Regions from separate parts of the Homo sapiens genome. Here region 2 is linked to region 1. The links come from fine-mapping of genetic effects on gene expression. Tissue or cell type: whole blood. Region 1 holds a variant in brackets; the other region holds the start of a gene. All regions are shown on one strand. Distances are between the middles of the regions. Region 1 overlaps FRY (FRY microtubule binding protein). Region 2 holds the start of FRY (FRY microtubule binding protein).

Region 1 (5,386 bases):
CCAAAGCCGACTACACTGAACAGTACCTTCCTTTCTAGAAACAATTTTAGATTGGCAAAAGTGCAATGTTTTCTTCACTCAAAAAATTTTATATTCTCAAACATGTATATTCTTTCCCTGTCTTGTTCCATTTTCTTTTCTTTTTTCTTTTTTCTTTTTCCTTTCTTTCGTGGGCTGAGAAAGGGGCAGGCAAAATGAAGCTGGCCACTGAAAACTGTAAGATGGTCAAAAGCTGACAGCCTGTGTATGTGAAAAGGGAATTGTAAATGGACTGCAATGTAATGTACACTGTAATTTGAATACAATTACTGTATCTAAAAGGAGCTGCTATGAAGTACCTTTCTTATGTTGCTAGGCTACTGTTTCTGAAAGCCCTGGATCTCTTTGCACCAAAAATGGTCCAGATAGACTCTTTTTAAGGATCTTGGCTGCTTTTTACTAGAAGGTTGCTTTTATGAGCATATTTATACTGCTGAAGGATGAGTGTTAATTTTAATTAACTTTGCCGTTTTGTAGAGAAAACTATTCACAAGATAAATTCCAAGTCTTTTCACCTGTCAGGCATGCATATTTTAATATCTGTTTGGATAGTCAGAAGTAGAATCATAAAGGTAAAATATGAGTTGTTACTTTGTTTCTTCGATGTCATATTTTATGTGTAATATATATGTAAAGGGCCATTCTTAAGTTCTCTCCTTAAACTTAATGCTGTCAAGTGTTAGATGTGTGCATGTGAACTTGTTGCACTGCAGAAACATATTCAGAGTTTATCTATGTAACTTATTCACTCTGTAAATACATTTAAAGTTTTTGTGATGTAAGCTTAATTGATATTCTGTTCAGAACTTTCTTTAGACTAAAAAAAAAAAAAAAGACAAAATACACGTTGACCATGGACTTTATTTCTGGTTAATGAAAATGTTTGTCCTGGGCACACATGAAGTTTTGCATGTGGGTTGCCAAAGTAATAACCCCAAGGGGCACCCCTCGCATGTATGATCTGAATGGCACCCGTGGGGGTCATGCCATGCATGGCCCTGTGAAGCTGGAGGTAAGTATTATCTCTTTGGAAGTTGGCATCAAAACTGTGAGCTTCAACCAATTCTCTGTAATCAACCAAAGAGAAAAATCAGAAAAAAGTGAGAGCTCTAATTCTCCATAACCTATAATTAGGTTGTCATCCTTCAAATTTGGAAGTTAATTCTATAGTGAGCAGGAAAAAGTAGTAGAGTTGTAATTCTGTCACCAACACCTATCCCCCAGGAACACAGGGAGAAACATGTAACAATCTCATTTATGCCGTCTTTCTACTCATATTTTACATGGACCAACAAATATAGCTTGCTTTACTAGCATATGGCTACTGAATCATTGGCAGTAATATTCTAGGAGTATTCTATAGAAGAGAGCCTAACCTAGGATTTTTTTTAAATCCTAGTAGTTGCTACAGATGCAACTACTAGATTTTAATAATTTTCTGGACTGCTGAAAACATATTTTTCTGATGATTTATTTTTTTCAACTTGCCTGAAAGATGATTTGCTATGATTTGTAGAAACAACTGAATCATGATCTCTCTGAAAAATATCATAAAATAAAGGTTTCTGTGGCTAACCACAGTAGACAACTTTCAGAGAGTTTTGTTGGGAGCCACAGTAGAAAGAACAGATTCGTCATGAACTGAGTTTTCTACCATGGCTTCTTACCCAGCAGAGAACCACCGTGATGGTTTACTCTTAAAAAGGGAAGGAAAAAAAAAAAGGATTTCAACAGTACATTACAATCCAAGATATTAACATAGGAAGCAGTGGTCTGTGTTTTTCTCAATTTTATTTTTAAAAGGAGATGTATTAATGTGAAAGGTTTCTTCTACTTTTCCTCTATCTCTTCACCTCCTCTACTTTAAGTGGAGATGGGAAAAATTGTGTAGGATGCAGCCCCACGCCAGCAGAGCCCAGCAATAACTTTAGATCTACCAGTCAAATCTTGTCGGCTATTGCTCTGTGCCTCTGTTACAGAAGCATTAATGTTAATTGCCTTCCCCAGGGATACAAAGAAGTAGAAGTACCAAAGGAAAGGGTAGATATTTAACAGATGCCTCAGTGATAAGAAAGATGCCTCCTTGTGTCTCACTGTTTTCTAGCACTGAAACATGATACACTTTGTATCCACCTGCAGAATAAAGCAATCCAGACAGGCGCTCTGTAACTTAGACATCACTTGATTAAAATTATAGTCTCCAAATATAGTGTTTTAGAAAAGGCACTGCACATTTTTAGAGGCACGTGAATGTCATTCCCACCTCTAACCCATCTAACATCGGTGAGATGTTAAGAAAATGTGCCGATGTTACTGTGAAATAAAGATGCCTGTAATTAATTGTAGGCATCACACACATGCGTGAACATCCAGAGTTAGGTCTCAAGGCTCTTCTGGTTCTAAGTCCTAACAAACAATGATCTTTTCAGTGAACTGTAGAATTCTGGAAAGAATAAGCGTACCTCCAGGCTGCTTACATCAATAGCTTACACGTGCTTCCTGATGCCTGCCTTAACAACAAAAAATTCGTGTCCATAGGTGAGTATTAGGGTATGTTCATTGTATCTCAATGAAACTAGTTTTTAAAGTTTTCAATGCATTTGTTTGAGATCAATTAATATTTGGATACCTATCATGACCCAGGATATTTCTTTGTTCAGCAAATATTTATTGCATGCCCACTCTGGGCTAGGCACTGTTTTAGAGGACACCGCAGCTATCAAGGCAGATGTGGTCCCTGTTCCCATGAGGCTCCTACATTTGAGTGGAGGAAGATGTACTTGTCTACGTTGGGTGATGATTAGTGCCATGAAGAACAAAACGGATACAGTGAGTAATGTGGACAGGGCTATCTTAGCTATCACTCTAATAAGGTGATATCTGAGGAGAGATCTGAATGAAGTGAGGATACAATGGATATCCAAGGAAAAGAGCATTCCAGCAAAGGAAAAAACACATGCAGAGACCCTGAAGGAGAAGCAGGGTCACTTTGTCAAAGGGACAGCAAGGAAGCCAATGACCGGGTGAAATGAGTGAAGAGAGCGTTCAGAGAGGACAGCCAAAAGCTCTGTGGGCCACGGCAGGACTTTGTCCCTTGCTGAGCAAGATGGGAAGCCACTGAATGTTTGCGGGCAGGGTAGTGACATGCTGTGACTTATGTTTAAAAGGATTACTCCTTCATAGCGATGAAGAAAAGCTCTATAACAAAAGTTCCGTTGTGGTGGTTATACAGCATTGTGAATG[T/C]ACTTAATGCCAATGAATTGTGTACTTTAAAATGGTAAATTTTATGTTATATATGTTTTACCACAATAAAAATAATTTTTTTAAAGGATCATTCTGGCTGCTATGTGCAGAATAGACTGCAGATGGGCAGAGGTAGAAGCAGGAAGACTAGAGAGATGGCTGTGGCAACAGTGCAGTCACCAGGCGATGCTGGCTTGGGCTAGGGTACTAGCAAGGGATATGATTAGTTGTGGGCATATTCTGGAAATAGTTCAGAGCTAGAGCTGACAGGGCTTACCAATGACACGTGGAATGGGAGAGAGTTTAGCCCAAACAGCTGGAGGAATGGAGTTTCCACTAACTGAGATGCGGGAATGCATGTTTGGGAGATAGAAACCAAGATTTATTCTTCAGACATGTTAACTTTGAGATGTCTGATATCCAAGACAAGATGGTGAGTAAACAGGTGGATGTGTGAGTCTGTTGTTGAGGAGCAAAGTCTGGGCTAAAGACACACATATGGCATTTAAAGCCCCTGAGAAAAAAGTAGGATACTCCCCTGTCTTGTCCAGCCGGGACTGGGATCTCTCATAAAAATTAGAGTGTAGGTAATGGGCTCAAAATTTCAGATGCACATTAAATCATGTCAGGGACTTAAAACCCCAACGCTCAGCCTTCGTCTTAATTGATGTAATTGGTCTGAAGCTGTGCTCAAACTCCAGTGCTGTTTAAGTTTCCCCAGATGATTCTAATCCACTGCCAAGATTGGAACATTGCTTTCTCCTTTCTAGACCTAAGAGTCACCCCAGGGTATTTGTCAAAAATGCAGAATCCCTCAGGTTGACCCCTCTGGAGACCAGTTTGGTAAATCCAGCGCAGGATCCCTCAAATCAGCATTGTAACAGCCACTCCACTTTGAAAGACACTGAACTAGGAGAAACTTCCTATATAGCGAAGTGCTCTTTCTTCTAAAGCACACCCCCAGTTGTTTTTCCACGTAGGCTGTTGGTGTAGTAATTCTACCCAAATCTGTCATTGATCTTTTTGTAACTTTGTTTCCTATTTGAGGTCACAGTGAGTGAGTGACTAGAATTTACTGCATCCACTTACAGATCAGTTTCCTGGCAGATGCCTCCTTCTCTGTCACCATCTTCTGTAATCCAGATCCTTCTTTTAACAGCAAACTTGAATAGATATTGTATTCAATTTTCAGATTCCAAGAACTTGGGCCACCTGGTGCGAACTTCCAGGAGCTCCTCGGCCAGGAGAACAAAGAGATTCCTCCCGGTCCCCTTTACTATGTCCAACCCTTCTCTCCTCATCTCTATTTCGAAAAGCCCAGAGACTTTGAAATTCTTGCCACCTGGCTGTACTAGCCACTTCCTTCCCCAACTCCATCACTGTCATCCACAGCAGTGGCTGTGACCCTCAGCTGCATTAGAAGCACTGGGGAAGCTTTTTAAAAATTCTGAGGCTTGGGCCCCCCTCCGGATCCCGTAAATCCTTTCTAACGCTCCTCTGATGATTTTGAATTGCAACCGCGCTTGGGAACTGGTGACCTAAAGCCCTCCTGCTTCCTGCCCCTTATTCATCGGAGAGACTAGAGCTTCTTGCTCACCCCAGCTTCCGATGTCGTTTCCAGGACTTCAGGAGTCTTGTGTATAACCTGTATGAAATCTTTTCCCTCTCATCCTGTTAACATTCTTACCTCCAGGCATTTTCACTCTTTTCTACCTTAGCCACCCAATTTCCTGGCTATACCAAAACCTGATCCATAGCAGTAAGTGAACCAGCTCCAGAATCCCACCTTCAGGCCCCCTACTCAGGAATTTTCCCAGTTCCCCTTTACTCCAGCCCCCACCCCTCTGACAATTCTCCCATCATGAATATCAGTCTGTGGCCCTCACAGGTCTTTACTCTTCTTTGGAGCATGTTTAAATTCCATGGGTCATTATAATCCCTCTCTTGCTGACATTCACAAGGGATGCCCTACCCCTGTCTTACTCAGCTGGTTAAACCCCAAGCCTGGCTGAACCTAAAACTGACTCTTCCCACACCTGCACCAGAAGTGTGACATTAGTAGGATGAAGATATTACTAGAATGCAAGTCACACATGTAGTGTCG
Region 2 (5,386 bases), 270 kb before region 1:
AACTGAAGTCACTAGCAAGCCAGGAACACATTCAGATTTTACTGTTGCATTTTAAAGTACCTCTGTCCAGGTGCCTCTTCTGACTAATTTTTTTATGCCCCCCCAGAGAGAGAGAAGACAAAAGGATAAATGTTTCAACTCAGCTTGCAGCGGGTGTCATTCTATTTGATTTGCAGGCCTTTCAACAAAACAAAAGCCCTTTTCTGTTCTTTTACAATATATGTCCTCTTTAAAGGTACTCGAATGAAGAAAAAGCATACACTGGACAAGATTTCAGGTTCTAAGAGACAGAAACTGGGCTCTTAGATGCTGATTCACTCTTCACAGTGAAAGCTAGATGGCATTGAAAACATTATTTTCTAAGTAGCATTTACATTTTTATGACCGTTTCCCTTGAAATATATATGAGTGGCATTCTCAGCAAGTTAGTATGTTTATAGTAGTTAAATACTGAAAACTTATGTATTTAAGTATTGAAAACTTTAAAAAGCCAGTTAAAAATTTTTTAAAATAAAGTCAACAGAGAGAATCTCTATATATTTGAGTAACAATATACAATAGCATGTTTGCTTATTGCAACTGATTTTAAATGTCTCCAACTTGCTCTCCCCAAATAGTTACCACTGGTGTTCAAAAGTAATATATCTTTTAAACCACATAAAGAGTAAAGAAAAAAAAGTATTTAGCTTTTTAAAAAAAAGTTCTATTCTAGAGTCACTAAGGATTCATAATAAGAATGAATGGGCCAGGCGCAGTGGCTCATGTCTGTACTTTGGGAGACCAAGGCAGGTGGATCACCTGAGGTCAGGAGTTCAAGATCACCCCAGCCAACACTGTGAAACCCTATTTCTACTAAAAATACAAAAATTAGCCGGGCATGGTGGCGCATGCCTGTCACCCCAGCTACTCAGAAGGCTGAGGCAGGAGAATCGCTTGAACCCGGGAGGCAGAGGTTGCAGTGAGCCAAGATTGCACCACTGCATTCCAGCCCAGGCGACAGAGTGAGATTGTCTCAAAAAAAAAAAAAAAAAAAAAATCAATGTAGCTAAAATTTAATGAAGTGTTAACTATGGGCAAGATACTATGCTGAGCCCCTTTCATACATAGTGTTATTTATTGTTTCCAACAACTATAGGAAGAAGGTACAACCCCATTTTACAGATGAGGAAACGAAGGCTTAGCAAAGTTAATAGCTTACTTTGGGGCTCAAAGCTAGTAAGGGCTGGTGCCAGGAGCGAACATGGGGCCCTGCCTTGAGAGCCCATGCCATCGTTAATCGCAGGGCACTGTGCAGCCTACCTGTTCATTCACTGCCATCTGAGTCTTGGCAAGCATCAGATGGGCGTAGGTATGAAATTTATTTTCAGATATAATAATTGTTTCAAGGTAAAACCTTTGGGTCTTATTTTACCTAGAATCCATACATTCAAAGTACAAGTGATAAAATCAGTTCAGCAACTCTAGTATGCACATGAATTAAAAAGAAGTCAATCTGGTGAGAGATTTCATCAGAATAAAGTGTATAAGTGGAGTTGGAAATCTGAGTGATTGAGTGCTTGCCATTTGGGTAAGTGTAATGAGTTTGAAAAACTAATTGTATTGATGAAGTATCTTAGGGCCTTTCAGAACATAGTTCTAGAAGTTTTATTTAGTGTTGAATTTTAAAAATTCTTTGTCCTAACAATAAAAGTACATTGTAGTCTTTCCCTTCCATTTTTAAAATGAACTGTTAATCTAGGAAGTCCTGTTTGTGTGTTGATTTGGGGAGTTAGCCCAACATTTGCTATGTTAAATACTTATTAACATGGTTTATTACTTTTTTCTGTTTTTTAGACAACATTAATCATGAATGTACTGGGACTTGGGAAGGATCCTGTGGTTTATGAGATAGTTGGCCAAATCCCACCTCTTCCAACATAACCTGTCATTATTAAAATATAATACTCTTATTTAATCCCCTGGTCAAGCTAAATGATAATGTGAAACAAAGCTAACCAAAATCAGGACACCTGATATCAAGAATTCATGAAATCAAGAGCCATTGTAGAGCAAGGAATCTAATGCTTTTGCTTCTTATCCTTTTCATACAAATAAAATAAGCTTCACTGGGCTTAGTGAGTCTTAGAAATGAGAGGTTTGAGAATAAGATCCATTGTGGAGTGTGTGACATTACAAAAACAAGCCAACTAAGCAGTGTGTACTGTCCCCTTAGAGTGCACACGTTCGGGCTCCGATGCCCCTTGAAAAGACTGCATTTCTGGGAGGGAAAAGTAAAAATGCAGATACCACCATGCGTGTGGAAGGCAGGGAAGAAAAAGCCCAGACAAGCGTCCTCTTGTTGAGTCTCTTTACTGCAACGAGGCTGACGGATGGGGTTTTTCAAAACGTCGCTGCAACCAGATGCAAGGCTGCAGCTTTGCTTACCGCAGCGTGCTGCAGTTGTGTTTATTTCAGGGACAGACACAAGGGGAAGCAGCAGCCAGAGCACACCCGGGCCGCTCACGGGAAGCCTTGCTGAAGAGAGAGGATCCGCAGAAGCTGGGAAATTCCTCCCGCAGCCTAGGCGGAGACTGAGCCGCGGCTCAGGTTGAGACAGTGGGCAGGGGCAGGGGGCGGCGCTCCCGGCCCATCCCTTAGCCCCGCGGCGGCCGTGTGGGCCGGAGGCTGCCTGCACCGCGTCAGGGAGGCCGGCCTAGAAACCCTCCCTCCCAGAAGAAAGCCGATCCCAGTTCAGGTGGGGTCTTCCTCGGTTGCGTACCTGGCTGGAGCCGAGCTGGTGGGCGGCCGGCAGCCGGCGTTTCTGGTGATGACAGCCCCGAAATGAAAGCAGCGCGGCCGCCGCCTCCGAGGGCTGCAGGGAGATCAGCGTCCAGCAAATAAGAAGCAAGTCCTGGACCCGGAGGAGGAGGAGCGGCCGAGCATCTCTCTCTGCTCCGCCGTGTCCTTTAGATGAGCACTCCCGGCCGGAGCCGGAGGTGGATCCGCAGAGCTGCCTCTGGGCGCCTGACCCCGCGCTGACATCACAACCTGTGACAGGCGCATCACGCCCGGTACCTGCTCCCGGCCGCTGCCCGTCCTCCCAGCCTCTTTGTATGCCGCAGACATGGCCAGCCAGCAGGATTCGGGCTTCTTTGAGATCAGTATCAAATATTTACTGAAATCCTGGAGTAATAGTGAGTAATAGAAAATAACCTTTTTGTTTGTTTGTTTGCTGGATGTTGCATAAGGCTGGAGACAGAAAATCTCAACTGGACACATATGTTTGTGAGCCGCGGAAGTTTTTCTTTTTTTCTTTTCTTTTCTTTTCTCTTTCTTTCTTTCTTTCTTTCTTTTTCTTTCTTTCTTTCTTTCTTTTTTTGCTCCCATCTGCTGTGAAAATCAAAATGTCAGAGACTGAACTAGCTTTCCTTAAGTGCAAAGGCTGCAATGGAATTACAGTAGATTGTGTTTGATTAAATTTTCAAGTGAGGCAGCCCTTCAGACTCTGGGGGAGCTCAGGATCAGGCATTCCTGGCTGCATTTCCTGCCTTGATGTTTATTTGATTTGTTCAGGCTTTCTCTAAATATTTTGTGAAGTGTGATTTAATCAAAGGGGTGTGGCAGGGTTTCAGAGTACTTTGTAATTGTTTTTTTAGGGTATTGTCTGAAGAAAGAAAAGTATTTAATAGTCCAAAACCTAGGACATCCTTTTTGTATATAGAGGCATCTGCAGATTTATTTCATCTCTCCCTCTTCCATGTGGATGATGTTCTGAATGCCATTTAATATTTGAATTTTTAAAAATCCTGATGTTTGCTATAGTCCAAATATTGTGCTTTTTTGAAACATAAACAAGTGAGGTTCTGACCCTAATTATTTATTAGGATAGCAGAATATGATGGCTCCTGAAGTTCCATTTCTGACCTACATAAGGATTTTAGCAATACGCTATTTCAAAAAGACAACCTCTAAGCTGCCGTGGATCTGGAATCAAATTAAAATGAGGCCTTCAGGTGATCAATGATGCCTTGTATTTTCCGAACTGTTTAAAAAGAAAGTCTTCTCTATTTCACTAACAGCCTTTGTACTTGCTTTGGATAAAAGATCAGCAGGTATTACTGATGCTTTATTGTTTTAAATAAAAAAATTTTTTCCCCGTGAAAATTTTAATATTGTATTATGTGCATACTGATTAACCTACCTGTGCTCAAAGAGCTAGTGATTAATTGTCTCCTACACAAATGACCTGTGGCCAAGATTGTTCTTATATAAACAAAACCTGGGCAGGAGAACCTGTGCTGCAATTGCTTTGAGGAAAAGAGCTAAAGTACCTTCAGCCTTAAGGTATTCAGGGATGTGCATCTCTAAATGATATCCATAGAAACCATTTTTTCCAGGTCATTTTGCACCACTGTATACACTATGGGGCTTGTCTGAAGCTGTTTTTCTACAAGTGGGAAGCCATTTGGGAGTAATACTGTTGCCCAAACAGCATTCTTTACTTGTCATAGCTATAAATCATTTAACTTGGACTCATTATTTTTATAATACTTTACACTCAAGGATGAATCTTCCTTTGTCTATCTGCTCTTTGATTAATGAAAAGAATTTGACATACAGTGTTCTTTATGGAGCAGTTTTCCAATAACTGAAAAAACTCACTTTTGAGTTGACATCAGTACGTGGTTTTTAAACATATTTGATTATTCCAAGACCAGACTGTTTTCTTCCATCAATTTTTGTCATTGCATCATTAAATAGAAAATTATGTTGTGACAATACTGAGGCCAATGGGATTTCTTTTAAAAATTTCTCTCCCCTTGTCTATTTTCAAATCACTCTAGATAAAGTATATATTCTCTCCACCCTTCCTAAACTCCTCTCCCCACATACATACTTCAGGAAATGATTCAAAATGACTGTTCATTTCTACTTTGAGAATATCTGTGATACAATTTTGAATTCTTCCAATTCATTCAGCAAATATTTATTGAATACCTACTATGTGCCAGGCTGTGGGGCTACACAAGGTGAATAAGACACAGTCCCTGCCCACTATATTAATTTTTTTATTTCAGAGTAGTGAAGTTGGTGGCTTTCCAGCATTCTTTTGAGGGGGAGAATGTTTTTCAGTCCTTTCTTGAAAGAGGAAGAGGAAATATACTTTGTTTATCTTCTTTAAGCTTGTTACAACACTAACCTGCTTACAATCTAGCATAGTTCTCATTGCTAAGTTTTACATATTTTGAGCAGCAAAGAGAGAAAGGAATTTGTCTGTGTAGAAGGCAAAGTAGAAACAGAAGCCCTAAGGCTCAACATACTCAGTGTAACCTTGGCTGAGAGGATGCACCATGAGGCAAGCGGCTAATTGCACCTGCATGCACCTGCACGCGCATGCCTGGCCTCA

What was found. PIP is the estimated chance that this variant, and not a neighbour inherited with it, causes the effect. A credible set is the group of variants that fine-mapping cannot tell apart.
Region 2: it holds the start of FRY, and the variant in region 1 is the best candidate, but not a certain one, in a credible set for the expression of FRY in whole blood (TOPMed, PIP 0.83).

Annotation. Positions count from the first base shown.
Region 1 is chr13:32,295,756-32,301,141 of GRCh38, forward strand. FRY (FRY microtubule binding protein) reads left to right here. Exons shown (of 61, transcript NM_023037.3): 61 at 1-3,370. Among named protein-coding and RNA genes, the nearest start is that of ZAR1L, 17 kb to the right of the region's middle. The variant T/C (reference allele first, on the strand shown) is at 3,283.
Region 2 is chr13:32,028,693-32,034,078 of GRCh38, forward strand. FRY (FRY microtubule binding protein) reads left to right here and starts at 3,082. Exons shown (of 61, transcript NM_023037.3): 1 at 3,082-3,173. The coding sequence starts at 3,104. FRY-AS1 (FRY antisense RNA 1) reads right to left here and starts at 2,947. Exons shown (of 4, transcript NR_103839.1): 1 at 2,759-2,947.